Linked DNA regions of Homo sapiens. The protein of the gene in region 4 purifies or fractionates together with the protein of the main gene of each other region. This does not show direct contact. Each region holds a gene or a part of one and is shown on either strand. Other genes may lie near its edges.

What was found.
Region 1: the proteins of APPL1 (region 4) and DBN1 purify together in Homo sapiens (co-immunoprecipitation; one large-scale study listed by IntAct). This does not show direct contact.
Region 2: the proteins of APPL1 (region 4) and TTC4 fractionate together in Homo sapiens (co-fractionation; one large-scale study listed by BioGRID). This does not show direct contact.
Region 3: the proteins of APPL1 (region 4) and ARPC2 purify together in Homo sapiens (affinity purification with mass spectrometry; one large-scale study listed by BioGRID and IntAct). This does not show direct contact.
Region 5: the proteins of APPL1 (region 4) and ACTR2 purify together in Homo sapiens (affinity purification with mass spectrometry; one large-scale study listed by BioGRID and IntAct). This does not show direct contact.
Region 6: the proteins of APPL1 (region 4) and ARPC1A purify together in Homo sapiens (affinity purification with mass spectrometry; one large-scale study listed by BioGRID and IntAct). This does not show direct contact.
Region 7: the proteins of APPL1 (region 4) and CAMSAP3 purify together in Homo sapiens (affinity purification with mass spectrometry; one large-scale study listed by BioGRID and IntAct). This does not show direct contact.

Annotation. Positions count from the first base shown.
Region 1 is NC_000005.10:177,467,135-177,470,634, forward strand, and holds part of DBN1 (drebrin), read right to left. Parts: intron 1,766-3,500; coding exon 1,710-1,765; intron 1,087-1,709; coding exon 974-1,086; intron 684-973; coding exon 609-683; coding exon of another isoform or gene 494-608; coding exon 347-493; intron 199-346; coding exon 121-198; intron 1-120. UniProt on the Homo sapiens protein: Actin cytoskeleton-organizing protein that plays a role in the formation of cell projections. Required for actin polymerization at immunological synapses (IS) and for the recruitment of the chemokine receptor CXCR4 to IS.
Region 2 is NC_000001.11:54,739,861-54,743,157, forward strand, and holds the end of TTC4 (tetratricopeptide repeat protein 4), read left to right. Parts: intron 1-1,550; coding exon 1,551-1,653; 3' UTR 1,654-2,797; downstream 2,798-3,297.
Region 3 is NC_000002.12:218,241,189-218,244,688, reverse strand, and holds part of ARPC2 (actin-related protein 2/3 complex subunit 2), read right to left. Parts: intron 1-3,500. UniProt on the Homo sapiens protein: Actin-binding component of the Arp2/3 complex, a multiprotein complex that mediates actin polymerization upon stimulation by nucleation-promoting factor (NPF).
Region 4 is NC_000003.12:57,262,229-57,265,728, reverse strand, and holds part of APPL1 (DCC-interacting protein 13-alpha), read right to left. Parts: intron 1-3,500. UniProt on the Homo sapiens protein: Multifunctional adapter protein that binds to various membrane receptors, nuclear factors and signaling proteins to regulate many processes, such as cell proliferation, immune response, endosomal trafficking and cell metabolism.
Region 5 is NC_000002.12:65,251,831-65,255,330, reverse strand, and holds part of ACTR2 (actin-related protein 2), read right to left. Parts: intron 1,604-3,500; coding exon 1,467-1,603; intron 1-1,466. UniProt on the Homo sapiens protein: ATP-binding component of the Arp2/3 complex, a multiprotein complex that mediates actin polymerization upon stimulation by nucleation-promoting factor (NPF).
Region 6 is NC_000007.14:99,342,898-99,346,397, forward strand, and holds part of ARPC1A (actin-related protein 2/3 complex subunit 1A), read left to right. Parts: intron 1-1,395; coding exon 1,396-1,618; intron 1,619-3,500. UniProt on the Homo sapiens protein: Probably functions as a component of the Arp2/3 complex which is involved in regulation of actin polymerization and together with an activating nucleation-promoting factor (NPF) mediates the formation of branched actin networks.
Region 7 is NC_000019.10:7,609,363-7,612,862, reverse strand, and holds part of CAMSAP3 (calmodulin-regulated spectrin-associated protein 3), read right to left. Parts: intron 2,388-3,500; coding exon 2,248-2,387; intron 2,164-2,247; coding exon 2,070-2,163; intron 1,987-2,069; coding exon 1,932-1,986; intron 1,769-1,931; coding exon 1,695-1,768; intron 1,347-1,694; coding exon 1,277-1,346; intron 1,177-1,276; coding exon 1-1,176. UniProt on the Homo sapiens protein: Key microtubule-organizing protein that specifically binds the minus-end of non-centrosomal microtubules and regulates their dynamics and organization.

The DNA.
Region 1 (3,500 bases), on a different chromosome or scaffold from region 4:
TAACCCAGCGCTGGGGGCGGGGCACGTGGCATGGGCCATGCCACTGCAGTGAGGGACTCAGACCTGCCCCATGGGGTCCATGAGGGGTGGCTCAGCCAGGCCGGGCTCAGGGTTCCATACCTTGGCCTGCTCCCAGAACTGCTCTCGGTTAATCCGCTTCATTTCCACAGCTGCATCCGTCTTCTGGTAGGTGGTGCCCTGCAGTGTCGAAGGACCCAGCATAAGCAGGCTGAATGCCCCAGGAACCCCCGACACCTAAAGGGTGAGAGCTAAGAGGGACCGGGCAGGCCAGACTCGGGCACCAGGCCACGCAGGCAGAGCCCACGGGTGCCAAACACACACTAACCACGGGCTCTGCGTTCTCATCCTCTCGCAGCCGCAGTCGGTGCAGCACAGGGCTGGAGAGTCGCGCCAGCCCGTTAGAGAGCCGCTGCCCGATGGCACCCGCGTCTATGTCTTCCACGCTGCTGGCGTTCACGATCACGTCGACACCCTTCCGCAAGAAGACGGCAGTGCTCAGGCGGCACCATCCTCCCGCCATCCCCACCCCAGCACGCAGACCCTGGTGGCTGTCCCCACCCCCAAGAGCGCTGGCCCCTGACACGCACCTGGAAGAACTCCGCCACCTTAGCCACGTGGCTGGCACAAGCGCACTTGCGGGCATCAGGCACATCTTCGCCCACCTGCAAAGTACCCAGCAAAGAGGGGGTCAGGAAAGGACAAGGGGGGCCCTACACGATAGGGTGCATCTTCCCCGGGGTGGGAAGAGGGTGGGCTTCCCTCTCCACGGGTGTCAGAGGGCCGACGGGGAGGGCGACTGCTCTGGGCCTTCAGTTCCCTTCCCCAGCCCCGGCCGCATACCCAGTTGATGAGCAGCTCTGGGCCCTCAGCCCCCTTCCCCAGCCCCGGCCGCATACCCAGTTGATGAGCAGCTCTGGGCCCTCAGCCCCCTTCCCCAGCCCCGGCCGCATACCCAGTTGATGAGCACGTATTTTGGCAGAGCAGCTTGGGAGTCCTTGACACTGCAGAAGCCGTACATCACCTTCTGGTTCTCAAAGTGTCCCGAAAGCTCCTGCAAGCCCCCTTCTAGGGTAATCAGGAGAGTGTCAGGTCTCTCTGCCTCCTAAACCCTTCCCAAAAAGAGCCTGGAACTCAAAGCAAAGACTCCTCCAGGCCTCCACAGGCACCCCCAGGGGTCTTCTGGCCTCTGGGGTCTGTGGGTCCCAGTTTTGTGTTGGTATGTGTGGGGGTGGTGGCGCACAGGGATGTAGCTTTGCCTGTGACTCCTGCAGGGCCTGATTTGGGGGTAGGACTGAGGAAGTGTTTGTTCTTCACACTCAGGTCTCATTCTTCACACATCATCATGTCTCACCAGGTGCCAGTGCCCAGAGGCACAATCAAGCCTTCTGGCTCTGGGGAAGGCGGTGAATAGGGCCCTTCCCCCAAAGTGTCCCAGCTGTGTGGCTTCAGATAAGTCACTTTCCCTGTTGGAGGCTCAGCCTCAGAAGTCCAACATTCAACAAGGCTCTGAGATTCCTCCCCACCCTGGGGACACAGGGATGACTGGAGGAAGGACACCCGCCAGATCCAGACAAGTGTGGGGCTGCAGGGTGCAGGCAGGGAGGTGGCCTACAGCCAGGTGGGTGGGGAAGAAAACAACCAGGAGGAGGGGGTGGAGAAGGCGGCGAGGGAATGGCTGGAATTCCTACCTCCTGATGCTGCAAGCTTGAGGTCATCGGAGCCATCTTCATATGTGTACAGAGCCCTGGGGAGAGGGAGGGGTGGCTGTCAAACTGTCAGGGCCCAGGCCGCCAATTCTGGGTGGGGACGGCTCTGGGGAGGGAGAGGGACATGGAGTGGGTAGGACAGGAACGGGGAGGGCTCCTGCTGTAGCCATGACAACAGGGCCAGGCATCGGTTCAGGCGGGAGCCCAGCAGGGTACTGCTGGAGGCCTGGGTCAGGGGGGCGCAGGCAGTGAGGGGAGAAATTGCTGGCTGGTCGAGCTCAGTGCGCAGCATCCCGGCCCTGGCCCTGGCAGCCTACAACCCAGTGGAGCGGGTGTGTGATGGAGATTCCAAGGCGACGGTTCCTTGGTTACCGTTCCCTGGCTACCAGGATCCTCATCCCCCATTGGCTAGTGCCAGGAACTTACCTGGCACGTGCCTTGGTCCCCGCTGCCCCTCCCCCGGGGAGGGAGGAGGAGAAGAGAGAACCTGGTGCTCCCAACAGCTCTGGGCATCCCCCAGTAACCATGGCAACCCTGCAATTGGCACACGACTGGCCCACCCCAACTGCATTCTCCTTGAACACAAAGGACCCTGGGGACCCGCCCTCAGCCTCAATCTCCGCCTCTCTGAAATGGGGATGAGGTCACTGCAGTCACTCTCGCCCAGACTCTGGCCCCGGGGTGGCCAAGCCTGAGCTCCAGGCCTTCCAGCCCCTAGGCTGCCTCAGTCCTGGCTGAGGCTTCCTGAGACTGCTGGCCTTTCCTTCTGTCTGAGCTCTAACAGAAAGCTGACCTGGTGGCCTTCCTCCTTCCTCCTCCTCCCTAGCTTTGTGTGCCCTGGCTCCTTTTGATAGGCTGCGGTGACAGAGCAACCATTGCACAGAAGGGAAGGCAGAGATGCCTCCTCCATCACCCCATGCAGGCCCAGGCTGAGGACCCTCTGGGAGGGAGGAGAGCCGGGGCCTAGGAGGAAGGGCCTTGTCCCTGAAGTTTGAAAGGGCTCTCAACCCCTTCTCCAAACTCCTATTCCCCAGGTGCCAAGGCAGGAGGCTGGGGCTGTGAGGAGGGGAGGCAGAAAGGGAGGGCAAGGGAGAAGAGAAAGAGGAGGGGAGAAGCAGAGGGAGAAACCAGGAGAGGAGGAAGAAGAGAAAGGACAGAAGTGAAGGGACAAAGGAAATGAAGGCGGGAGGGATGGAGGGGACGTCTCAGGAGGTTGTGGCCAGGGCCAAATGGCCTCAGCCCCTCCCCTTCCTGGATTCCCGGCTTCCTACCTCCAGGAAGGAACACAGGTGGGCTGTGGGGCTGGGAGCTCCTGGTCCAACTGTTACCCCCAGCCCCAGCCTGGCCCTGACAGATGCTTCCAGCACAGCTGGCCCACCACCTGTCCTGCTGCCCTAACCCACCACGGGAACAAAGGGCCCTGGGAGAAGCAGGCTCTGTCTCTCTCCATGCACTGATGAGAAACTAATGCAGAGCCCAGGGACCCTAGTTCCTAGAGACTGCTGTAGACATCAAGCCTCCCTCTGAGAGGACCTGTCTTGGCCTGCCTAGGCTCCCCGGGGTGCCTTCCATCCTCAGCCCCTGGCTCCCCACCTCCGGCCACCTCTTCCTGCTCCAGCCGCAGCTCTCCCCCAGCAGAAACCATACCCCAGTTCAAACCCTCCAGCCTGCCTTTCCATTGGACCACCCTGTCCACACCACACACTTGGGACACACTGGACGGCTCCCTGACCCAAGCAGGGTTCTGGACAGGGCTCACCCTGAAGCCTCTGC
Region 2 (3,297 bases), on a different chromosome or scaffold from region 4:
TGATTTTTAAAAATTAAAAAGATTTTAAAAGATGTACAGAATAGGCCGGGTACAGTGGCTCATACCTATAATTCCAGCATTTTGGGAGGCTAAGGCATGAGGATCACCTGAGCTCAGAAGTTAGAGATCATCCTGAGAAACACAGCGAGATCCCGTCTCTATAGAAATCTTTTTTATGGTGTTGTGCACCTGTAGTCCTCGCTATTTGGGAGGCTGAGGCAGGAAGATTGCTTGAGCCCAGCATTTCAAGGCTGCAGTGAGCTATGATCACACCACTGCACTCCAGCCTAGGTGAGAGTGAGACCCCCTCCTCCCACTACCCAAAAAAATTACAGAGTAATGTAAAGATTTGAAGTGTACTGTTCAGTGGTGAGGCCTGAAGTAGGAGGAGGTGGATTAGAGGTTTAGGAGGTAGATTGGATGGGAGCTGGTGTAGTGTTGAGTGATGTGATAGGGGTGTCCAGCTAGTCTTAATGCTTTGGCTTGGTAGGCAGGAAGGAAAGGTTTTTCCAGATCTGATTGATACCTTTGGTGGTGTTTTGCTCTGGTCCCAAATCTCTCTTCTTCTAGTTTTTGGACACATTTTTAGCTGCTCATTTTCTCAGTTGTTAGCAAATTACCCAGAATTCTTTAAAGGCCTGAGTTCTGCCCTACCCCAGAGGAGAAATCTAAATAGAAAGCAGACCGATGCTTGGAGGAAACCCGTTTCATGCTTCTCAGAAAATGTAAATGCTGTTGGAAGTTACTACCTTTAAAATTATTACCATAGGCAAGAGCCTACCCAGGACTGGTTTCTGGCAACTTCAGACCCTAAACTGGGTGGAGCCACGAAATAGGCCCTCTGTCCCAAAGCAGGCCCACTGAGTAATACAACACCCCTATCCCTGGGAGGCCAAAGCCCTCCCTGCCTCTCTAGCCTGCCTGACTCCTTTTGCTTTGTGCCCTAGCCACAGCAAACATTCTGGTTACTTGCACCTCCTGGCTTTTGCTCCCCAACCCCCATCACCACCCCTTCCCCAAATTAAAGCCAAGTTCAGACATGGCATCTTCCAGGAAGCCTTTTTTGATTCCCTTCCTCATAGAGGGAATCGTGCCTCCTTGGGATAATGCTGCGCCTCACAAATGCTTCTGCAGTTGTGCCTTGCTGTCATTAATTGGTTCCTCATCTCCCTCCCCTCCAGGACTGAATTTGAGAACAAAGATGATGGTGTGTGGGTGTTGGTTTTTTAATCTCTGTGTTTTCAGCACAGGGCCTGGCTTACCACTGAATGTTGAATGAATGAATAAAACCATGCTTTATATTTTTATTTCATATTTAGCCACAGACATGCATGATGCCAGAGGACTGGCCTAAAGGTTCTGGCTAGGTTGTAAGGATGAGAATGTCATGCTAATTTGCCAGATTTATGAACAACCACATAACTGTGCTAAACTTGCATTTTCATGTTGACTCCCATCCAGAGGCTCACCTTGCATGTTGTTAGGAAGGTGCATGGATGGTTAAGATTGTAATTAAATTAACACCCTCTCTTTTGTTGTGTTCACGGCAGGTACTTTGTAAAAGCCCTGACACCAGCATTTTTGGTCTGTGTAGGATCCTCTCCTTTTTGCAAGAATTTTCTCCGGGGGAGAAAGGTGTACCAGATACGATGACTAAGCCAGGGCCCCTGGATCTCCTCCCTTACCCTCCTCTGCTGGGAACCTAGCACACCTGAATCAGCTGGACATACTGCTGGAGTCCAGTGCTTTCTTTCCGTCACCCTGGGGATAGTCCTTCCTGGCATCGTGGTGGGGGAGGAGCCTCTGGCTTCCCTAAACTGCAGCCTCTCTGGCTGGTCTTCACTTTCCTCAGTTGATATAAAACTCTGGGTCTTGGCCATGATGTCCTTGGACTCCATCGCTAAAGGGACCATCTGCTGCAGTTACCACAGCAACTGACCTGAGCGGCACCCTGGTCTGTGGAGATGGACTCAGGATCCAGTGACATGATTCTGAACTTTTGTGGAGTTTGACACCTTAGAGAAGCTACCCCTCAAACTGCACATCTACACACAAACAAACAATGCATAGGATTCCAAGGCTTTAAAGCTGAGAGACCCTGGCCTCAAGTTATTTCATGCGCACAGAGGGAAGCCATGTGGGGTTGCTGAAGATGCCTTGAGGTGAAATGGGGGCAGGAAAGCCACATCTTGCTCTGCATTTATAAAGACCGTACAAACTCAGATCCTTGGTACCCCTAAAAAGATTGCCAATTTTCTTCATCTTTGCCATATGGAGGACTGTGACAGACTTTGGACAGTGGCCTCTTGAGTTCCTCTGCAGTTTTGACATTTAGGATTTTGTGTCTTTTAAACTGGAAAATCTTCTAGCATGTTGGGTTGTTACAGAGTATATTTTTGTCTGCAGCTGTTTGTTGCCCCATTCCTAAGAGGAGTTTATCCATCCTGACTTGTAGCTGTGTGACTTCTTGCAGTGCCCCCACCCCATCCCCCCGGGAGAGTGTACTTCCCTGCTCCCAATGCAGAGGGATATGCACAGGCATGAGCTGTCCTGCGTCTGACAGAAGCCTGAAGAGTCATGTGTGGTTGGCCTGTGCTCTTCCCTCTGCTGTGAGAACACATTTCCCACAGAGGAGCCGTTCCATGGAGCCGAGCTACAGCAGCTGGCCTGCAGCCACTGAGTGTCACAGCAATGAGAGAGCAATGTTTGCTGTAGTAAGCAGTGAGATTTAGGGGTTGGTTGTTACTATAGCAGAGCTAATACATGAGTAAACTGAAGCCAGCTGCTGTCCTTAAAAGTGGACTAATTTGAGGCTGGGTGCGGTGGCTCACGCCTGTAATCCCGACACTTTGGGAGGCGGAGGTGGGTGGATCACCTGAGGTCAGGAGTTCGAGACCAGCCTGACCAACATAGCAAACCCCGTGTCTACTAAAAATACAAAAATTAGCCAGGCGTGGTGGTAGGCATCTGTAATCCCGGCTACTCGGGAGGCTGAGGCAGGAGAATCACTTGAACCCGGGGGGCGGAGGTTGCAGTGAGCCAAGATCGTGCCATTGCACTCCAGCCTGGGCAACAAGAGCAAAACTCTGTCTCAAACACAAACCAAAAAAAAAGTAGACTAATTTAGAGTTTTGTGTAGTGTGCCTCACTGTCTTTGAAAGGAAATTGGCTGTGGAATATTTACAAAGAACCATGCAGCTTCCAGGTGCCGGTCCCTGTCTGTGGCTTGTGGCTAGGAAGCTGAAGTTCAGCCTCCTTCCTACTCCTGGTTTTGGCCACTTAAGGACCTGAGGACCA
Region 3 (3,500 bases), on a different chromosome or scaffold from region 4:
TTCTACTGCTGCTCAAATACTGCCTCCTAATACCATCTCCAACAAACCCAGGCAGGTACTGCTCTCTTGCTGGAGCTGCCATGTCTTTTCTACAAACCTCTACTATGATATTTTACCATTCATTAATGTATCTGGCTCCCCTACCAGGTTATGAGTTCAAATCAAAGATCCTGCTTAATTTATCTTTGTAATTTATTCTTCTGTCTTTCAAAGAGGCTATGCAGCACATGCCTTGCTGAGAGAAAGCAAGTGCTTCTACCCTAGCTGGTTTAGTATCATCACACTGTACAGGAATAGGCAAGGGCTGTTTCCAGTTGCAGGCAGGAAGAATAAACACTGATTAGCAAGCCCTCTCGACAATTAGTGGCAAAAGAAAGATGATGGCTGAGGAGCCCCAATGCCCAGCCTGGGACCTCACCTATTTCACAAACTGCCTCTCATGCTAACACTACCAAGCTTTAAGTAGGAAAAGAAATGACCATCAACTGGGTTAGATTAGTCCCCTTTTGAACAGATTTTGTTCCCCGAAGGAAAAATATCCAAAAAGGAAGGGAAGGAGTCAAGATTATCCCAAATGGAAATTTCTAGAGCAAAGCTTCTAAAATCGCCCTTCTCTAGAAAACATTTTTTATTCTACAAAGGGGTTAAGAAGCTTTTTAACTTTTACTGGTTTTACTTTTCGGTATTAAGGAATTAAACAGAACAGATACGTAACTGTTGGCATTTTCTTGTGTCTGTTAAGTGTCTCCAAGGCTCTAATTCACAGGTACATGTGGTATTCACAATGAGATGGGGTATTTATAAACCAGTGGTGACTTATTAGCACTCATTAGTTTTGTATATGGAAAATAACATATTTAAGGCTCGGTCAACGATACGTTTCTGGCTTGGGCCTATTCTTTCTTTCTTTTTTGAGACAGGGTCTCACTCTGTCACCCAGGCTGGAGTGCAGTGGCGTGATCTTGGCTCACTGCAACCTCCACCTCCTAGGTTCAAGTGATTTTCATGTGTCAGCCTCACGAGTAGCTGAGATTACAGGCGTGTGCCATCATTCCCGGCTAATTTTTGGCCTTTAAAGTAGAAACAGGGTTTCACCATGTTGGCCAGGCTGGTCTCAAACTGGCCTCTAGTGATCCACCTGCCTAGGCCCCGCAAAGTGCTGGGATTACAGGCGTGAGCCACTGTGCCTGACTGGGACTATTCTTTAGATTCTCTGATGTCTTTGCTTCTCCTCAGTTCTCTCTCCTAAATAAAGCTTAAACAAACAAACACACCCAAACAGCCCTCCATCTTCATTGGCATCTTTGTTATACGTAATCAAGCAATATTGCCTTTTTACTCTCCTTCTGGCTAGGATGTCTTTTGAGCATCAGATTATTTCTCTCTTCCAAAGTACTATTTATCATAGGAAGTTCGGAATAAATCCAAATATATACAAGGCATTTAGCATATGATAAAAGTAGCATCTTAAATCAGGGGTGTAAAAAAGGAAATAATTGCCACTGGGACCACTGGATAGCCATTTAGGAAAAAAAGATCATTCTTTCATACCATACAACAAGAGGAGCTCTCAACAAATAAGAAAAAATCATGTATAAAATATGTAACTGTAAAAATACTCAGAAAATAACAGGTAAATTTCTTTATAACCTTCGAGTAGGGAAGGGCTTTCTACCTATAACTCAAAATCTAGAAGCCATAAAAGGCAAGACTGATTAATTTGATTATGTAAAAACAAACTTCCACATGGTGGAAAAAACCCCACAAAACACGGTCCAATGACAAACTGGAGAAAATATTTCAACTCTTAATCACAGATGAAAGGCTACTCTCCCTAGTATGTAAAGAAATTGAGAAGCTCAATGACCCTACAGAATAATGGGTAAAGGACATAAAGAGACACTTCATAAGAAAATCAAATGGTCTATAACATTAAGAAAAGATGTTCTGACCTCAGAACATCTTTTTATGTCATCATAAGCAGACACAGATACCACCTTTAACCTATCAGATCAGGAGAAATCCACAAGTTTACAACATACTCTGGGAAAACAGGCACTCCTCTCCATCACTGGTAGATGATAAAATGCCACTACCCTGATGGAGAAGAGTTTGGCAATGTCTACCAAAATTACTGACTTGGACTCAGTGTTCCCAGTTCAGGAAAATATCCTACAGACATACCCACACATGCAAACAGGCAGAAAGGGCCCTCAAAATACATCTTTACAACTGCCTAAGAGGCAGGTGCTTGTGTCTTTGTCCCTGAACATATAAAAACCAGTGGTTTCCACTTAACTTTTCCTGGTTATTTAGTTACTAACTTGACTTTAAAATCTTAGAATATGAAAAGAATTCTAGTTCACCATAAGCTAATCTCCAAAAGCATAATTACTGGTCCTATTGCTTTTCATGGAATAAGCATTGAAATGATGGCTTCTATCAGACATTCTCCAGTACTCAGCTGATATGCCCATACCACTAGTGTGGAGGAATACACTTCCTGTCTTTTTCTGAGAGGTAGAAAGCATCCCTCAGAGCCTGCTTGCCAAATGACAAAAGCAAGACTTGAATTCTGATCAGGCTGGATGTGCATGCTGGAAGGGAAAGGCCACAAAGGCTGGCAACAAGTAGACTAGTGACCATGAGGAACTTCAAATAGTGTTCTCAGGGTACAACTTTCTGTGCCAGGTGTCCCTCATTCTTTTTCCGAGAAATTTACAATTCCAGGCCTAGGAAAAAGTTCTATTTATTTTTTGGGAAAATCCAGCAAAAGTCCAGTTTCCGATTGTCATTTCCAACAAATTACCTAAGCCTCTGAATTTGGAAAGGGTGGCAGGGCAGATGACTTCCTGAGTCTAGCTAGCACTGCACCAGGCCAGTTACTATCCAGAGATCCTGTTAGTGCCAAAATGCAAAAGAGGCTTTGTCTTTCCTTTTAGGTAAGTGCCCTACCACAGGTACCCTGAAGGAGGCATTTAAATCATATGCCAAAAAAGAATACACAAAATTCTCCTAAGGAACAAATCTCCGGTACACTCTCCAAGATAAGATCTGTTTAAAGTATAAAAATAAGTTGTTTCCTGGAATAAAATGGAATAAGATTGGTAAAAAACCAGCCAAATCTAAATATATACTTCAGAGCTTTTAAAATTAGTTTTGTTACTCTGGATTTAGCCCAATTTCTGAGCTACTGCATTTAATTCCCCTGTCAATTCTGCATAAAAACACATGAAATGCCTCTCTAGAGGCTTACTTTTAGGACCCAAGAGATACATGTATATTTATATATTCCTTCATCAAGTTCAGCACTAGCAAATGCTGAAGTGTCAATATTCCAATTTTTCTGTATAGTGACTCCCAAACTAGTTTCTGATTAATTAGCCAAAATACAAAAGCCACTAGGGATGGAGCAGTTGAGAATATCACTTTTGAAGATTTTCCTAGCCACTTAGAAGGCTATGCAAAGTATCTTTACTGTTAAGCACAGCTGTCTTTCA
Region 4 (3,500 bases):
AATTGTAAAGGAAGAAGTCAAACTATCCTTGTTTGCAGATGATATGATGATCTTATATTTAGAAAAACCTAGACTCCACCAAAAAACTATTAGAACTGATGAATTCAGTAAAGTTTCAGGATACAAAATCAACATACAACAATTAGTAGCATTTCTATATGCCAACAGTGAACAATCTGAAAAAGAAATAAATAAAGTAATCTCACTTACAATAGCCACAGATAAAATTAAATACCCAGGAGTTAACCAAAGTGAAAGATCTCTATAATGAAAACTACAGGCTGGGCGCAGTGGCTCAGGCCTGTAATCCCAGCACTTTGGGAGGCCGAGACAGGTGGATCACTTGAGGCCAGGAGTTTGAGACCAGCCTGGCCAATATGGTGAAACCTCATCTCTACTAAAAATACAAAAATTAGCCAGGTGGTGGTGGCGCATACCTGTAATCCCAGGTACCTGGGAGGCTGAGGCATGAGAATTACTTGAACCTGGGAGGCAGACATTGCAGTGAGCCGAGATTATGCAACTGCACTCCAGCCTGGGCAATAGAATGAGACTCTGTCTCAAAAGAACAAACAAAAAAAACAAAAAACTATAAAACACTGATGAAAGAAATTGAAGAGGACACCAAAAATGGAAACATATTCCACGTTCATGGATTGGAAGAATCAATATTGTTAAAATGTCCATACTACCCAAAGCAATCTATAGATTCAATGCAATCCCTATCAAAAAACCAATGGCATTCTTCACAGAAATAGAAAAAACAATCTGAAAATGTATATGGAATCATAAAAGATTCAGAATAGCCAAAGTTATTCTGAGCAAAAATAACAAAATTAGAGAAATCACATTACCTGACTTCAAATTACAATGCTACAGAGCTATAGTAACCAAAACAGCATGGTACTGGCAAAAAAAAAAAAAAAAGACACATAGACCAGTGCAACAGAATAGAGAATCCAGAAACAAATCCACACAACTACAGCGAACTCATTTTTGACAAAGGCACCAAGAATATACATTGGGGAAAAGACAGTCCCTTCAATAAATGGTGCCGGGAAAACTGGATATCCATATGTAGAAGAATAAAACTAGACCCCTCTCTCTCACCATATACAAAAATATTTTTTAAAAAAATTTTTTTTTATTTTTTTTATTTTTTTTTAAATTTTTTTAAATATAATTAAAATGGATTAAAGCCTTAAATCTAAGACCTTGAACTATGAAACTACTACAAGAAAATATTGGGGAAACTCTCCAGGACATCAGTCTGGGCAAAAATTTCTTGAGTAATACCCCACAAGCACAGGCAACTAAAGCAAAAATGGACAAATGGGATCTCATCAAGTTAAAAAGTTTCTGCACTGCAAAGGAAACAATCAACAAAGTGAAGAAACAAGCCACAGAATGGGAGAAAATATTTGTAAACTACTCATCTGACAAGGGATTAATAACCAGAATATACAAAGAGCTCAAACAACTCTATAGGAAAAACCTTAATCTGATTTAAAACTGGGCAAAATATTTGAATAGACATTTTTCAAAAGAAGACATACAAATGGCAAACAGGCATATGAAAAGGTCCTCAACATCACTGATCATCAGAGAAATGCAAATCAAAACTACAATGTATCATCTCACCCCAGTTAAAATGGCTTATAGCAAAAAGGCAATAACAAATGCTGGGAAGCATGTGGAGAAAAGGGAACCCTTGTACACTGTTGGTGGGAATGTAAATTAGTATAACCACTATGGAGAAAAGTCTGGAGGTTCCTCAAAAAACTAAAAATAGAGCTACCATATGATCCAGCAATCCCACTGCTGGGTATATACCTAAAAAAAGGAAATCAGTATATTGAAGAGACATCTGCACTCCCATGTTTGCTGCAGCTCGGTTCACAATAGTTAAAACTTGGAAGCCACCTAAGTGTCCATCAACAGATGAATGGAAAAAAAAAAAAAACAACAGATGAATGGATAAAGAAAATGTACACACACACACAATGGAGTACTATTCAGCCAGAAAAAAAGAATGAGATTCTGTCATTTGAATGGATGATACATGGATAAAGAAAATGGATAAAGAAAATGTGGTACTTACATACAATGGAGTACTATTCAGCCATAAAAAAGAATGAGATTCTGTCATTTGCAATAAGATATATGGAACATGGAGGTCATTATGTTAAGCAAAATAAGCCAGGCACAGAAAGACAAATATTGCATGTTTTCACTTATCTGTGGGATCTAAAAATCAAAACAATTGAACTCATGGAGCCAGAGAACAGAAGGGTGGTTACCAGAGGCTGAGAAGGGTAGTGTGGGGATGGGGGGTGGGAGGATGGTTAATGATTAAAAAAAAAAAATAGAATGAATAAAACCTGGTATTTGATAGAACGGGGGACTACGGTCAATAATAATTGTACATTTAAAAATAACTAAAAGAGTATAATTGGATTGTTTCTAATACAAAGGATAAATGCTTAAGGGAAGGAATACTCCATTTTCCATGATGTGGTTATTACGCATTGCATAAGTGTAGCAAAATATTTCATGTACTGCATAAATATATACACCTGGCTGGGCGAGGTGGCTCACACCTGTAATCCCAGCACTTTGGGAGGCCGAGGCAGGCGGATCATCTGAGGTCGAGAGTTTGAGACCAGCCTGACCAACATGGAGAAACCCTGTCTCTACTAAAAATACAAAATTAGCTGGGCGTGGTGGCGCATGCCTATAGACCCAGCTACTCAGGAGGCTGAGGCAGGAGAATCGCTTAAACCCGAGGGGGCGGAGGTTGCAATGAGCCAAGATCGCGCCATTGCACTCCAGCCCAGGTGACACAGCAAGACTCCATCTGGAAAAAAAAAAAAAAATGCATACACACACACACACACACACACACACACACACACCCCTTGTACCCACAAAAAACGAAAAACAAAGATCATCCTACTTTCACCATTTTAGCTCTAATTAGTCTCTTGAGAAACTTTGTTAGTACGATATTCTCAATAATTGTTCTATTAAAGGTTCTTTTTCCAGCTGGGTGTGGCAGCTCATGCCTGTAATCCCAGCACTTTGGGAGGCCAAGGCAGGTGGATCACTTGAGGTCAGGAGTTCAAGACCAGCCTGGCCAACATGGTGAAATCCTGTCTCTACTAAAAAAATTAGCCGGGCATGGTGGCACACAACTGTAGTCCCAGCTACTTGGGAGCTGAGGCAGGAAAATCACTTTAATCCAGGAGGTGGAGGTTACGGTGAGCCAAGATTGTGCCACTGCACTCCAGCCTGGGCAACAGAGCAAGAGTCTGTCTCAAAAAAAAAAAAAAAAAAAAAAAAAGGTTATTTTCCATAGAAAAAAAAAACACTAGAAGAAAATGAAGGGAAAACTCTCCTGCACATTGGTCTCGGCAAAGATTTTATGCCTAAGACCTCAAAAGTATAGGCAATAAAAATAAACAAATGGGACTTAAACTAAAAAGTGTCTGCATAGCCAA
Region 5 (3,500 bases), on a different chromosome or scaffold from region 4:
AGTCAGTAAAATGACTAGAAAAGTCAGTTTTTGAAAAGCACTGCATGAGTACTAATGTTTTGATAGTTTTGATAAACAATCAAAAGTATATTAATGAATAAATATTATTTTAGTACTGGACTCCTGTAGCCTGCAGTTTGCTCACACAATTAATGCCATATTTATGAAATGCCCCCAAGTCTTTAAAAGTTTTATCTTTAGCTTCTAGTACTGTGTCTGGCACATATTAGAAGGACAATAGCATTTGTTTAACGAATGATAAGGGAATTATTGGGATACTCAAAGGTATAATCTCCATTGTTACATTTCTTAAATGCTAGAAAATACTACTATTTTTTTAAAAACCCACTGAGAGAAAAAAAATTACTAGACTTTACAAATAAAAAAAAAATCCTCTAATATTTGAGTCTGTGTTCTAAAGACAACCCCAGAAATTCTGTTAGTTACGCTTTGAATTTTGGCCTAAAATGAGAGTATTATAATTCTCATTAATTTAATCTCCCCTCATGAGGAGGATTACTTTAAATGAGACTGAAGGAACCCAATGTCAAGGTAAAGACAGTGCAACCCAATTTAATGCAGAGACAGGGTTTCTTAATAGCAGCACCACTGACAGACTATACATTGTTTGTTGTGCAGCCAGCCCTATTCATTATAGAATGTTCAGTAGCATTCCTGCCCAGCTCAGACAACCAAAAATGTGTCCAGAAATTGCTAATATCCCCCAGAGGACAGCACTGTCCCCTGGTGAGAACCACTGTCCTGGAGAGGATAGACTGATTATAGAATTGTGGTATAAACAATTTTCTAAATTTTATTTTAATATTAAAAATGATATATGTTAGCAAGTAGACACCTTATGTACTTTCTCCAGTAATGTTTTAAAGAAAATTATAACTAGTTATATTCAGAAATAAACTAAAATAGTAAATATTAAAAACTGCATCTATTCCATGAAAACTACTAAATATTAAAGTCTGGCGTATTTGGGCTGTTTTCCTCAAATATCATTAATTTGCTATCACTGTATTTTGTAGGAAAGGACAAGAGCAGACAACCCAACCAAGATCATGGCTTAAAACATACCTGCTCAAAGAAAGGTTTTATGGCAGAAAAGGCTGCCTGAGCTGTCCAAGAAAGTTTCAAATTAGGGGTCTCTTCTATCCTTGAAATATCTGTCTACTCACTCCTCAGGAATAACAAATATAATTATGTAATGATATAATGTACTCTCATTAGTATACAGAGATCATGTGTGTACACTTTTTTCCTTGTTTTTAATGTATCTTCTTTTTTCTTCATGTGTATAAATCTTATATGAATTTTTATATAAATAAGGGAGGTAATTGGATAATTTCTCTAGTGGTACAGATTTGCTGGAATCCTAAAACGATAGATTCAATTCTGTGTTAAGGTGGTAAACAAATTACAAAATTTAATTTCCATGATATTTTCCTTTCACTTACCTTGATAAGATATCTAGTTATATCCCTCCCAGCAATATCCAGTCTCCTGGTAAGATGAGGGAGAGAAAAGCCTTCATATACTGGGCAAATGTGAGTCACACCATCTCCAGAGTCTACCACTACACCAGTCAATAAACCTGCATAAAAGCCAGGGGGATTTAAATAAAAAGTCAAATCAGGAAAACCAAAGCCAGCGAGTTCCAAATACAGTAGGGAAGCCAAAACAGAAACGTAACCAACTAGAAGCCAGAATTTATTATTTAGTTATTTTGCAGTTTGTTTCTAATGCATAAGTATTAAAGCGAGTGTTCTCTTTTAAGACTTTTAGTCTACTATTATGTGCTGTCCAAGGAGATGAGAAGAAACAGACCCTGAGACTGAGGACTGAAAAACAGGACTTTTTTTTCCTTTTTTTTTTTGAGACAGGGTCTGGCTCTGTCACCCAGGCTGGAGGAGTACAGTGGCTCAATCTAGGCTCACTGCAATCTTCATTTCCTGGGTTCAAGTCATACCTCCCACCTTAGCCTCCTGAGCAGCTGGGACTACAGGCATGCACCACCATGCCTGGCTAATTTTTGTAATTTTTTTGTAGAGACAGAGTTTCGCCATGTTGCCCAAGCTGGTCTCGAACTCCTGGCCTCAAGTGATCTGTCTGCCTTGGCCTCTCAAACTGCTGGGGTTACAGGCGTGAGCCACCACACCCAGCAGAACACGTTCTTAAAGCTCTGTACAATTCTTTATTTTTTTCAACTTAGATAGTTTTGAATATACTACAAATAACATATACTGTGTGTTCTGGAAAAATGCCTATTGATACTAGACAGCTAGAAATCTAAGAAAAATTAAACATGGCTAGCCAAAGCATCACTTTGATTATTCACTGGAACTTATAATAAAAGGCAATGTCAGTTAAACCTCATAATAAAAGAACAGCAAAGAAGCTGCTTTGTTTCCCCTGTTTCCTCAACCTCCTGGGCTCAAGTGATCATCTCACCTCAGCCTCTCAAGTGGCTGGGATTATAGGCATGTGCAACCACACCCAGCTAATTTTACTTTTTATAGAGATAGGGATCTCACTATGTTGCCTAGGCTGGTCTCAAACTCTGGAGATACAGCAATTTGACCACCTTGGCTTCTCAAAGTGCTGGGATTACAGCCATGAGCCACCATACCTGGTCAAAAAAACTTTTTTTATTTATTTTTATTTACATATTTTTTTTGAGACAGAGTCTCACTCTGTCGCCCAGGCTGGAGTGCAATGGCACAATCTCAGCTCACTGCAACCTCTGCCTCCTGGGTTCAAGCGATTCTCCCGCCTCAGCCTCCCAAGTAGCTGGGATTACAGGCACATGCCACCATGCCCAGCTAATTTTTTGTATTTTTTTTTTAGTAGAGACGGGGTTTCACAGTGTTAGTCAGGATGGTCTCGATCTCCTGACCTCGTGATCCACCCACCTCGGCCTCCCAAAGTGCTGGGATTACAGGCGTGAGCCACCACACCCGGCCTAAAACTACCTCCTTTTTAAGTGGATATAATTCCTTGATGCAATAAGCCTCATAAAACTCATATACAGCCCTTGAATGTTGTACTCTTTTAAAAAGAAGAGGATTTCCATTGCAAAAAAGAAAAAAAAAAGGAGGAATTCACACCATCATCAATTCAAAAATACTCCCAGGAACACTGACTAATGCAAGAATTTACATTTTATTTCCCAAAGAGCCCTCCCTACCCACCTCACCTTATTTTCTACCACTTCCATCAGGTCACACACATACTGGCCTTTCTCCAAACACACTTGACCCATTTCCAGTGCCACACTCTTTTCCCACTGGATTATCCCCTGAAGTGCCTAAAAGACTCCTTGGCACATATCTGACAGGCCCAGACATTCTCAGTAAGTTCCTGTTGAATTTATAAGACCATAAAAAAAAAAAAGAGCTCTCCCAACGTGGCCAATATTTTATTTCCAATAAAGAGGGAGGCAGTTGCTAATGGCAATATCAAGAGAATATATAAGTAGTCCCCTCCATTAA
Region 6 (3,500 bases), on a different chromosome or scaffold from region 4:
ATTTTTAATAGGGACAGGGTTTCACCGTGTTAGCCAGGATAGTCTCGATCTCCTAACCTCGTGATCCGCCTGCCTCGGCCTCCCAAAGAGCCACCGCGCCCGGCCTAACTCTTCAGTCACTATGACTTATGGGTAATTGAGGCTCAGAGGTATATTTGTCTTTTTTCCATATAAATGTCAAGAATGCTAATTATTAATTTTTAGAGAGAGATCTGTAATAAATATTTATTAGTAATATTTCTGTACTTTTTAATGTGAAATTATATTTATAGAAAATACCTCATCAAGGCCAGGCACTGTGGCTCATGCCTATAATCCCAGCACTTTGGAGGCTGAGACAGGCAGATCGCCTGAAGTCAGGAGTTCGAGACCAGCCTGGTCAACATGGTGAAACCCCGTCTCTACTAAAAATACAAAAATTAGCCGGGCATGGTGGCATCTGCCTGTAATCCCAGCTACTCGGGAGGCTGAGGCAGGAGAATCGCTTGAACCCGGGAGGCGGAGGTTGCAGTGAGCTGAGATCGTGCCATTGTACTCCACCCTGGGCTGCAAGAGTGAAACTCCATCTCAAAAAAAAAAAAGAAAGAAAAGAAAAGAAAATACCTCATCAATAAGTGTTAAATGAGTCATGGTGAATTTTGCTCTTGGTATATAAGAAACTGACCTTGAGTCTTGGTATATGAAAAACTGACCTTGACTTTGGGATTCTTCACAGAGGTACCAGATAAGTAAAGTCTCATCAAATAAGAAAAATAAACCTTACATTCAGATACATATTTAGGTATCTTCCTGGTTTAGATGCAAAGAAACAAGGATTCTTTCACAGGACCTGCATCATGTAGAAAAGGTTTTCAGTATGGTTCAACTGGCAGTGACTTTCAGAAGAATATATGATGAATCACAATATATAGTTCCCCCTCTTTACACTAAAGATTATTTTTATTTACCCTGTATGCTGTTTTAGTTGAATGCCATGTAGCAGACTGTTGGTTAATATCATAGAATGAGGTGTGTTAATGAATACAGTTATTTTCACACACACAAAAATCTAATAAAGAGGAAAGAAAGAAGTAATGAATCTTCAGATCTTTAGAAGTCTTAGAAATGTGTGAATGGGTGGAAAGAATGGCCCCGTTTAGTTTTGTAAAGTCTGTAATTATAAAACAGCTCTTCTACATGACCTCATAGACAATCCCGAGTCCCAGACGCTTTGCAGAGAAGCATCCTTGCCTTTCCTTGAGGCGGTGATCAGGACATAGATAGTGGGAAGGATGTGCCTGGGAGGAAGGTCCCAAGACCACGTCTCATCCTGGCATGCCAGTGCCACCCACCTGCCTGTGCCGCAGTTGTTTGTCATTGACTGGGCAAAGCAGATGACCCATGTCTCACTTGCAGGTATTGACTGGGCTCCCAAGAGCGACCGCATTGTCACTTGTGGGGCAGACCGCAATGCCTATGTCTGGAGTCAGAAAGATGGTGTTTGGAAGCCAACCCTGGTGATCCTGAGAATTAATCGCGCAGCTACTTTTGTGAAGTGGTCCCCCCTAGAGAACAAATTTGCTGTGGGAAGTGGAGCACGACTCATTTCTGTTTGTTACTTTGAGTCTGAAAATGACTGGTGAGTGACATCTGAATTTTTTCTATCCCTCTCTATAGAATTTACATTTGCACTGCTGTGTGAGGGCTCACCATAACTCCAGTTTTTCTCATCCGGAGTTGTGTGGTTTTTTCTCTGAAATTCTCGATTCTGTCTGAGCATTTTCCCTTCTCATGTGCATGTTAAGTTAAATCGCACGTTTTTTATATTAACATAGAGCTATTGTGTCCATGTTCTGATCGCCTAACTTGTTTCTTCTGCAAGATGCTATTACTGTTCTCACTCTATACTGCGCAAATTGCTGTTTTCTTACTCTCATTTACAAATAATAACATTGAAAGAGTCTCCGTTCCCTGAGGAATATTTTTTCTTTTTTTTTTTTTTTCACAGGATATCTATGTAGGATTCCTACAGATAACAATGTTCTTTTTTTTTTTTTTTTTTTTTTTTTTTTTGAGACAGAGTCTTACTCTGTTGCCCAGGCTGGATGGAGCGCAGTGACACGATCATGGCTCACTGCAACGTCCGCCCCCTGGTTCAAGCAATTCTCCTGCCTCAGCCTCCTGAGTAGCTGGGATTACAGTCACCTGCCATCGTGCCCGGCTAATTTTTGTAGTTTTAGTAGAGACAAGGTTTCACCATCTTGGCCAGGCTGGTCATGAACTCCTGACCTCATGATCCACCGCCTCGGCCTCCCAAAGTGCTGGGATTACAGGCGTGAGCCACCACGCCTGGTCAATGTTCCTTCTTTAAAGCTTATTTGCCAACCAAATCTGTGTCTTGGTGTAATATTTTACTTGTTTAAACTGTTGAAGTCAAAACTCACCAGAATCTTAGAAGTCTAATCAGCTATTGCACATTTTTTAAATTACTTCTTGCTGACCCAGTCAAAACACAGGTTTATTTTATGGCCAAAACTTATTTTAACTACTCCTTCCTGTTTGTTTTGATAAGGAAACAATTATTCTCCAGCCTGGCCAAGATGGTGAAACCCCATCTCTACTAAAAATACAAAAATTAGCCAGGCACAGTGGCAGGTACCTGTAATCCCACCTACTTGGGAGGAAGCAGGAGAATTACTTGAACTCGGAGGGCAGAGGTTGCAGTGAGCCAAGATCGTGCCACTGCACTCCAGCCTGGGCGGCAAAGTGAGATTCTATCTCAAAAAAAAAAAAAATTATTTTTCTGTGTGGCATGTGTTCAGCATGACTGGTAAATATCCTTCAACGTAAAGTTGTCATTTACTACTAAACTGGCAGTGTTTGTGTTTCTACTAAAAATAGCAGAGTATACATGACTCTTTGTAGCTGTTTTGTTATTTGTATTCTGCTGAAATTGAAAGAAGGGGATTATCATGTTACCTTTGTAATTTAGTAAAACTTCAGAAATTTTATTCTTCAAAAAGAGATTGGGAATTTGCGGTAAAATTGAGTTATGGGCCAGGTACAGTGGCTCATGCCTGTAACCCCAGCACTTTGGGAGGCCGAGGCAGGTGGATCACCTGAGGTCAGGAGTTCGAGACCAGCCTGACCAACACGGATAAACCCTGTCTCTACTAAAAATACAAAAAAATTAACGGGGTGTGGTGGTGCATGCCTGTAATCCCAGCTACCTGGGAGGCTGAGGCAGGAGAATCTCTTGAACCCAGTAGGCAGAGGTTGCGGTGAGCCGAGATCACGCCATTGCACTCCAGCCTGGGCATCAAGAGTGAAACTCCGTCTCAAAAAAAAAAAAAAAAATTGAGTTACGAATTTGAAACATACATTTTTCTTTCAAATGTGAAATCAAGGCTAACAAAATGTTACCTGCTAGAAACTATTTGGAAGTTTCATTGTAATGAGATAGGAAACTAACTTCATTAATATTCTCTCAAGGCTAAACTTTATGTCAGCTGGTACTCCTT
Region 7 (3,500 bases), on a different chromosome or scaffold from region 4:
CGCAGCTCCGCTGGCCGCGTGTGTTTCGGGCTGCGGGGTGACTGGCTGGGCCCGGGCCCAGGGCTGCGCCGGGTGGCCGGGACTCGCCGGGCGGGGCTGGGGGATGCAGCTTTGGGCCCCGTCGTGGGGCCAGGGATGACCCACGCAGCAGGTGGTGGGGCGGATCCGGGGGCCTCGGGCGGGGCCAGGAGCCGCTGCTGCTGGTCCGTGAGCCTCTGCATGTCCCGCTGCAGCGAGCTCAAGGCGGCACTCAGCTTGCTGACCGCTCGATTGTATTCCCCCAGCCCCTCGTGGGGCACCGGGCCCAGGTCTGGCGAGAAGGTCACTGCCTTGGGCCGTGAGGTTGGCTCACCCTGGCCCTCGCCTGCGGGCCGCTCCCCACCAGGGACTGGACCGGAATCGGCCTCCTCCGCCTCTGCTTCCGCCTCCCCAGAGGCTTCCCGCGGCTGCACCTGCAGGAAGGCGCTTTTGCCCAGCCGCTGGCGGTGCTTGGCGAATATGGCCTCAATCCGTCGCTTCTGAGCCTCGATGGCTCTGCGTTTCTCCTCCAGCCGGGCGCTGAGCTCACTCATCTCCGAGCTCAGGGCCTCCGGCGGGGCCGGAGTGGACGTGGGGGACCCCGCTCCGGCCTCAGCCTCTGCCTTCACCAGCTGTTTCTTGCGTTCTGCAAAGCTGGTCATTTTCACCTCGGAGTTGGTGGCTGCTGGGGACGAAGCCACCGCCTTCGGGGACCCCTCGGATGGGGCTGGCGGTTTCGATGCCTCCCCCACCAGACAGGGAGATGGTTTCGAGGGGGTCTCGGGGTGTGGCATGTACACTGGTGCTTTGGTGGGCCTGTCGGACAGTGGTTTGGAGGTCCCCTCGGGCAGGTAGGGGGAGGCCAGGGATGGCTTGGAGGGCCCCTCAGGGGAGTGGAGGTAGAAGCTGCCGTCGGCCGCCCCATCTGGGAGGAGCCGGGGCTCGGCACTGTGGATGATCTGCAGAGCTTCCTCGATGGTGGGCAGGTCACCAGGCTCCGGGGGTGGCTGGGTGGGGGTCCTGGCCGGCGCGGGACGCGGGGGGCCCAGGCTGTCCGAGCTCACAGAGCGGAGGAGCACAGGGTCTCCCATGACGACATCCACGTCGCTGTCCAGGCCAAAGGGGGTGCTGAATGACACAGCCTGGGAGAGGGGACGGCTGGGCGGCCGGAGGGAGGGGTCAGCCCCTGGGACCAGCCTCGGCCCCAACCCGCCCTAGCCTGCTCCACCCCCTACCCTGGCCTGTGAGGTCTACTCACCTGAGCTGCCGGTTCCAGGCCTTGCCCAGGGCCTCCATATGGGACATGGACGGGGAAGACTTCAGGGAGCCTGGGGGAGGCGATGAGTGGTCACTATGGGGACCCTGGGAACCCTGAGTGGGGTCAGCCAGCATCTGGGGACAACCTCTGCAAGGTCATTGGGTGAGTCACTGATGGCTCATTATGTGGTCTAGTGAGACCAGAGGTTTCCAGAAACAGATACCCGGGGCCATTTACTGTCACTACGGGGTACTGTGGGGCCACTGGGGAGGCCATTCTGGGGGTCACTTTGGGATGCCCAAGGGGGATCTGATGGAGAGGCTATTGGAAGGCTCACGAGGAGACAACATGAGGCCCACTGGGGCAGTCTGTGAGTGGGGGGGTCCCCCGTGACAGAAGCCACCTACCCCCTCCTCACCTGTGGATCCTCGGAGTGGGGACTGGGGGCCACCAGATGACAGAAGCGGGTGGCGGAAGGTGAAGACAGGAGAACTGTACGGAGAGACGTACTTCAGCCTCAGGACCCCCACCTCCTCCTCCGCCTCTCCCCGGGGGGAGACAACAGCATCACCCAGCTGCGTCCCAGTGCTCAGCAAGGCAGACATGGAGCCCCACACCCACAATGCCAGAGACTCGCCCAGTGTGGGGAGCGTACCTACTGCCGCTGTTGTTCTGAGGTGGGGAGGCCTCAGTGCCCCGGGGGGAGGCAGCTGCAGTACAGAGAAGAGGGTCAGGCGGGGGTTTGGCTCTCCCACCCGCCCCCGACCCGGCCCCCAGGCCCCCAGGGCCTCACCGTGACCATCGGGCAAGTCCTTCACTTGCACAAAGTCGGGCTTGAGCACCTCAAAACACATGAACAACTCGGCCAGCATCACCACCAAGTTGACCTGGAGGTGGGAGGCCGGGTCAGCAGACGGGACCCCTGGCCCCAGATGCCCGCCTCGGCCCAGGAGGCCCCAGGATGGCCTTACCTTGAGTGGCGGTGGGACGTACAGCAAGTCCTCAAGGGACAGGGGGCAGCCACGAGGAAGGCGAGAGGCACAGAAATCCTGCACGAGCTGGAGGTTGTACAGGCTGTCCGCCACAGACATGGGGTCCTTCAAGCACACCTCTGTGGGGACAGGAGGAGTGGGTCCCCAACTCTATGAGGAGGAGGATGGGGCCCCAGGGAAGCCAGGGACCAGCAGTCCCCCACACACGGAAGACCTCCTATGAGCCCAGCTTCTGCCAGGTGCCCTTCGAGAGGTGAATTCTTTTTTTTTTTTTTTTGAGATGGAGTCTCGCTCTGTCACCCAGGCTGTAGTGCAGTGGCGCAATCCCAGCTCACTGCAACCTCTGCCTCCCGGGTTCAAGTGATTCTCCCACCTCAGCCTCCTGAGTAGCTGGGATTACAGGAGTGTGCCACAACACCAGGCTAATTTTTTGTGGTTTTAGTAGAGATGGGGTTTCACCGTGTTAGCCAGGATGGTCTCGATCTCCTGACTTCATGATCCGGCCGCCTCAGCCACCCAAAGTGCTGGGATTACAGGCGTGAGCCACTGTACCCGGCCGAGGTGAATTATATGATAGACCGTCCTTAGGCCGGGGGTCCTTAACCCCCGGGGCGTGGCCTGTCAGGAACTGAACCGTACAGCAGGTGAGCTGCAGTGAGTGTATTTACAGCCGCTCCCCGTCACTTGCAGGACCACCCGAACCCCGCTTCCGTCAGATCAGCGGCGGCATTCGATTCTTACAGGAGCGCGAACCCTATTGTGAACCTGGCGTGTGAGGGATCTAGGTTGCACCCTCCTTATGAAAATCGAATGCCTGATGATCTGTCACTGTCTCTCATCACCCCCAGCTGGGACCGTCTAGTTGCAGGAACAAGCTCAGGGCTCCCACTGGTTCCCCATGATGATGAGTTGTAGAATTATTTCATTCTATGTTACAACGTATTAGATATAAAGTACATAATAAAGATTAACGTGCTTGAATTATCCCAAGACCACCTCCCTGCCTCCATCTGTGGAAAAATTGTCTTCCACAAAACCGGTCCCTGGAGCCAAAAAGTTGGTGACTATTGCCTTAGGCCTTTGCATCTTTCTAGAACACTCTCCCCCAAGACCTCAGCTCAAAAAGCTTTTCCGGGCCAGGTGTGGTGGCTCACACCTGTAATCTTAGCACTTGGGGAGGCTGAGGTGGGAGGATGTTTGAGCCCAGGGATTCAAGACCAGCTTGGGCAACA